2 linked regions of the Homo sapiens genome follow. The protein of the gene in region 2 purifies or fractionates together with the protein of the main gene of each other region. This does not show direct contact. Each region holds a gene or a part of one and is shown on either strand. Other genes may lie near its edges.

The links.
Region 1: the proteins of ZNF416 (region 2) and TUBA3C purify together in Homo sapiens (affinity purification with mass spectrometry, with the first as the bait; 2 studies listed by BioGRID). This does not show direct contact.

The regions. Positions count from the first base shown.
Region 1 is NC_000013.11:19,179,725-19,183,324, forward strand, and holds the start of TUBA3C (tubulin alpha-3C chain), read right to left. Parts: upstream 2,101-3,600; 5' UTR 2,024-2,100; coding exon 2,021-2,023; intron 1-2,020. UniProt on the Homo sapiens protein: Tubulin is the major constituent of microtubules, a cylinder consisting of laterally associated linear protofilaments composed of alpha- and beta-tubulin heterodimers.
Region 2 is NC_000019.10:57,573,335-57,576,106, forward strand, and holds part of ZNF416 (zinc finger protein 416), read right to left. Parts: intron 2,597-2,772; coding exon 2,470-2,596; intron 368-2,469; coding exon 1-367. UniProt on the Homo sapiens protein: May be involved in transcriptional regulation.

The sequences.
Region 1 (3,600 bases), on a different chromosome or scaffold from region 2:
TGTGAAAACTTACTTGCTCTACACCATCCCAGCTGCTAAGTTCCAGAGGTAGCCCTAGAACCTAATGTTTGCCACTACACAAAAATTAGATTATTTTAAAACTTGGAAGCCATGTAATGTCAGTAATCAAACCCACATTATAGCCAGTCACAGTAATTCTCTGAAGAATACATAGCAGTTTTTGATTATGTCCTACCAAAGGATAAGGTAATGGGGTTGGGTAAGGAAATAGAGAGTAGGTCCCAGGTCACTGTGGTCCAAGCCCAGGTGTTCAGTATGTGTCCTCTCTCTGCACCCCCAGATCTACCCTCCATCATTCACCACCCGCCCTGTGCTCTCCGAGGCTGACCCATGAGGACAGCATCAGAGGCCTTCCTTGCTCTCTGGCTTCGTGCTGGTTTGTTCAATGACAGGCAGCCGCAGGAGACCAGGAGGCTGGAGGAGAGTGGCGTCAGGGTACTCTCCCCTTGGCCCCTTCCTGCTCACCTTTCATGGGCGATACAAATCCCTCCATCAAGGCCACACTTTTGGCAGGTGGCCCTCTTCATAAAGTTACCCTCTCAATTTTTCGTAAGCACTCCCTCCCCTCTACCCCTTGAAGCCTAGGAGTGTAATGGCTCCCAGATGTCATCAGTGCTGGGACACTGCACTGTCCTTGGTGGTTTCTTTAAGCCCTGACAAGCCGGATGTGGTGGCTCATGCCTGTAATTCCAGCACTTTGGGAGGCTGAGCTGAGATCGCTTGGGACCAGTTTGAGACCAGCCTGGGCAACTATGAAAAAAAATTTTTTTTTTTTAAACAGAGTCTTGCTCTGTCACCCAGGCTGGAATGCAGTGGCACAATCTCAGCTCACTGCAGCCTCTGCCTCCCGGGTTCAAGCAATTCTCCTGCCTCAGTCTCCCACGTAGCTGGGACTACAGGCCACTATGCCCAACTAATTTTTTGTATTTTTAGTAGAGATGGGGTTTCACCGTGTTAGCCAGGATGGTCTCGATCTCCTGACCTTTTGATATGCCCGCCTTGGCCTCCCAAAGTGCTGGGATTACAGGCGTGAGCCACAGCGCCCGGCCGAAAAATTTAAACATTAGCCAGCTGTGGCAGCACACACCTGTAGTCCCAGCTACTCAGGAGGCTGAGGCAGGAGGATTGCTGGAGCCCAGGGGTTCAAGGCTGCAGGGAGCCGTGATCGTGCAACTGTGCTCCAGCCTGGGCAACAGAGCTGTTGTTGAGCCGTTTCAAAAAAAAAAAAAAAAAGATACTTGACAAACCACGGCCACTGCTATTCAGACTTGGGACTTAGAAATCTATTCTTTATGTGAATGCGTTGGTTGCTTTTTTTTTTTTTTGAGGCAGGGTCTCTCTCTGTCGCACAAGCTGGAGTGCAGTGGCACCATCATGACTCACTGCGGCCTCGAAGTCCTGGGCTCAGCTGACCCTCCCACCTCAGCCTCCCGAGTAGCTGGAACCACAGATCCACGCCTCCACCCCGGGAATTTTTCTATTTTTAGTAGAGAAGGGATTTCGCCATATTGGCCAGGCTAGTGAGGAGCCCCTGACCTCAGGGGATTCCCCGCCTCCAACTCCCGTCTGAGCTTTAATTCCTGATCTGACCAATGTCCACAGCCCTTGCCTCCATCAACAAGGCTCCTGGGGCTCCTCAGTGGTTTCCAATAGGACAGAGACATTTGGAGACCGGAAAGCGGGAGCAGCGCCCTTCTGTCTTCAGGAGGCGGCACCACTGTTTGCTCTCTGGGGGACAGGACACGGTCAATGCTCCCCGTCCACTGACTCAAGGCCGGCAGCTTCGTCTAAAACAAAAGCTGCCATCCCTGCCCTGGAGCCCGCAGACCCAGCAGACGATGCCGTGTCCTCGTGTCCCGCCCTGGGCCCCGCATCCTTCTCTGACCTCCTTTCTGCACCCTGGCCCGCAACAGCATCCCTCCATCCAGCCACCTCAGGAGGCCAACTTCGTCCACCCTCCAGCCTGGGCGTCTGCGGGGTGGGAGTGACCTGGCCTTACCATGTTGAGCTCCTCCGCTGCCGCAGCCCAACGCTACTACTTGACCTCAACCGCCGCTGCAGCTGCGCACGCCCAACGACAGCCTCCCGCCGTGCGCTGTCTGGGATTGGCCTGCTGGTGCCAGGCCACCATTGGTCCGGACGTCCTGGGAGGCGGGCCAAGGCTCGGATCCTAGTTTTGATTGGCCGTTGTGCAAACCACGTAGTGGGGACGCCCTCTGATTGGATGCAGGATTGGCGGGAAGGCAGCAGGCTCAGAGAGGGCCCTCTGACTGGATGCAGGACTGGCGGGAAGGCAGTGGGGTCAGAGGGCAGTGCGTGGGCTGAGACGTTTCCGGGGGTCCTCTGACCGGGGATGGAGCAGCTACTGCGTCTTTATAGGTGGAGGAACATTGCTTTGTAAGTAAGCTCCCAGCCTTGCAGTGGCTTGACCACGAACTTGTGCCGCTGCCTCCTCCCCAGTTGCCCCAGACCGGTTCCTCTGGAGGTGCCTTATTCAGATCTTTGCAAACATGGCCGCCTTTGAGAGGCCTTCACGGCATCTACCCAAGTCACAGCAGCACAGCAATCACCCCACCTTCCCACCCAGCACCCGGGAAGTGGCGGGATTCGATCACTTTTGTGATCTGAAAGGAAAAAGTGAGTGGGTTTCTGTGGCTCACGTCTGTAATCCCATCACTTCGGAGGCAGAGGCGGGCAGATCACCTGAAGTCAGGAGTTGGAGACCAACCTGGCCAACATGGTGAAATCCCGTCTCTACTAAAAATACAAAAACTATCCGGGTATGGTGGGCGTGCCTGTAATCCCAGCTACTCGGGAGGCTGAGGCTGGGGAATTGCTTGAACCCGGGAGGCAGAGGTTGCAGTTAGCCGAGATCGCACTGCAGCCTGGGCGAGACTCCGTCTTAAAAAAAAAAAGAAAAGAAAAGAAAAGAAGAAGCAGAGGTAAAATTAATATAGGTGGAGAGGTTGGGCTGGGCGCAGTGCCTCAGGCCTGTAATTCCAGTGCTTTGGGAGGCCTCCGCCGGAGGATTGCTTGAGGTCAGGAGTTTGCAACCAGCCTGGGCAACGTGGTGAGACCCGTCCTGCCCCCGTTTCTACAAAAAATAAAAAATGAATAAAATTAGCCGGACATGGTGATGGGTGCCTGTAATCCCAGCTACTCGGGAGGCTGAGGCACAAGAATCGCTTGAATCCGGGAGGTGGAGGTTGCAGTGAGCCGAGATTGTGCCACTGCACTCCAGCCTGGGTGACAGAGGGAGATTCCGTCTCACAAAAAATAAAAAACTAAAAAAAAATACAGTTTATTTGGGCCAAGTTTGCGAACTGCAACCTTGGAGATGCAAGTTGCCTTAATATACACTCTAATTAGCAGCAGTTACAAATGGGTTTTTAAAGGAAAAGAAGGGGCAGTTTCTAAATTGTTTACCAAGAATTTTACAAATAGAGACAGAGTCTTGCTGTGTTGCCCAGCCTGGTCTTGAACTCCTGGCCGGAAGGGAGCCTCCCACCTTGGCTGGCCTGGCCAGAGGAATGTATATTAAAATAACATAAGCTATTTATTGGCTCTATATTGTCTTTT
Region 2 (2,772 bases):
TGCGGCTGAAGAATGCCCAATGGGGCTAGGAAGTCCTTCCCAACCTCACTGCTGGTGAAAGGCATTCCTGACTCATGGAACAGGCAGCACTGCACAAATGAGGCCTTGTCCATGTCACTTTCCAAGGGTTTCTCTGCACTATGATGCTTCTGGTCCTGGTGAAAGACCGCACATGCCCCAGTCAAGTATAGTTCCTGCCCAGGCAAATCGGTCAGGTGCAAAATGTCGGTCAGGAATGGGACACACATGTCACAGGATTGAATCTTCTGGGTGGATGGACTGGCCTCTGGAGTCCTGACCTGAGGTACTCCTTCTACAGAAACACTTTGCTCAGGTGTCTCTTCATCCTCCATCCCATGCCAACAAACTGAAAGCAGAGAAACACTGATGAAATGCACGTTGACTATGATGGGAGTGTATTAGTCATTTAAAAAACTATTTTCTGAATAATTGGTGTTCTGACATCTTAAAAACTTTGCTGGCCTGAGCTCAGGAGTTTGAGACCAGTCTGGGCAATATGGTGAAACCCTGGCTCTACTAAAAATACAAAAAATTATCCAGGCGTGGTGGTGGGTGCTACTCAAGAGGCTGAGGCACAAGAATTGCTTGAATCCGGGAGGCAGAGGTTGCAGTGAGCCCAGATCGCACCACTGCACTCCAGCCTGGGAGACAAAGCGAAACTGTCTCAAAAACAAAACAAAACAAAACAAAATAAAAAACATTGCTGGCTGGGGAGAGAATGGTGCTTCCAGAGTGAGCCAACTCTTAAAGAGATAGCAAAGGGCTCAGCAAGGAGCATAACAAATACACCATCAATCCAGAGCCCATACTCCCAATCACATTTTCTATGTGACTTGGATGCTTCAGGAGCTAATATTCCTCTGCTCTAGTCATCCCAAGGTCAGGCAGGAGACAACTACGCCTAGTGAGCCCCTTTGCCCCAAAGCAAACTACTCAAATTACCCAATCCTAAACTGTTTATTATGTCTTGTGTTACCTGCAGAAACCCCAATAAAGGCTGTGGCTTAATATTTTCCCTCCTCTCTTGCTTCTACCTTCTGACCACTGAGCACTTCCTCATGTGGCCCTGCATGGCATGGTGTTCACATGCTCTTGCTACTGCAGGTGATAAATTCCTATGTCACTGACATTAACCTCTCTGTATTGGCACTCTACTACCTCCATTAATTAAAATCCTGTGGGTACATAACAGGAAATGGGAAGCACCTTCACATATACATCAAGGAATGAATTCACAGTATTGCTTTGAAGCAATATTGAGGAACTGAAAGCAGGATAAGAAAGAGGCTGCTTGGCAGTAGTGGGCCTCTAAAGATCACAAAATGGGGAGGCCTCACCAAACACAGGACGTAAGAATGGGGTACAGTACACAAGGAGAGGCAGGGTCTCCAATCTATTCTTTTGCCAAATCCTGTGGCAAGATCTTGTCAGCTGGTGGCACGTGTATGCTGTGCTGAAAGCTGGCATTATTCGGGCCCAAGATAATGCAATTGGAAGTGAGTGGGAGATTCCAATTGCGATCTTGTGTTCAAGAAATATTTAATTGGCATGTGCACAACTCACAACATATCGTGAGTGGGTCAGTGTTGGAAAACATGCTGGGGGGCAGTGCAGAGAAACTGGTGACACATGGAGGGCAGGAAGATGGGGGCAGCACGAGGCCGGATGTCCCAGATGAAGCAATAAGCCAGCAAAGTGTCAAGGAAGAGGAAGAAAACATAGAAATGAGATGTGTCCAGTGGCATTAGCACCAAACTCTGGATGACACAGGGCAAATTCCTGGTAAGATTAGAAAACAGGCTGGATGCCATGTCCTCACCCAGGTGCCACTGACTGAGGCCAGGCTTCCTCTGAAGCCATATTCCCATCTTCACCCTTTCCAACAACCAGGGCTTTCCCACCACCTCTAGATGTGCCACTACTTGGGACCTGAATGAAGCAAGTCCTAAGGGAAAGCTGGGACAGGTGAGTATCCTGCAGTGGCCCAGAGCAAGTCAGCAGCCTTGAGAACACAAGAAAGAAAATTAATATCACACAGATCCTTGAAGGAGGTTCTGGCAACCACAGCTCATGGTCCATGTAAATACTGATGAGGAAAATTCTGCAAATTCCTAACACAGGTAGTCAAAGGAAATGTCATCTAGGAGGCAGAATTTGAGACACAAAGTACCATGAATATGGACACAGCCACCCAAAGAGGAAGTGAAGAAGTAAACGGAGATGCATTAGGCTGACTCAAGACACCTAACAGCCAGACCCATCCCTGTGCATTTTGGGACAGCAAATGTCAGGGCTGATTAAGGAGTGCAATGATTTCATTCCTTACACCACAGCACATACGCCAAGACAGTGGGGAAGTCAGCAAAGCCCACGGTCCGGCAGAGCTGCCTCTGAGGAAAAAGAGGATAGACGAAGACCAGGACACGAGAGTGGGTGTGAGGGCCTTACCCAGCGCAGTTATAAGTGCAAAGTTCTCCAGCATCACATCGCGGTACAGGAGCCTCTGAGCCTCATCAAGGAGCCCCCATTCTTCCTGGGAGAAGTAAATGGCCACGTCCTCAAAGGTCACACAGCCCTGCCATGATGGGGATAGATCTTTCCATGATCAGATTCTCTCCTAGGACCCCAAGTTCATGCCCCCCACACATCCTTTCCCTGCTTATCCCCATACCTAAGCCCCACCTCAGAGGAGATACCAAGACCTGGTGGCACTGATTCCTGCCCTCTCCTCATGGTCCCATCATCACTGTG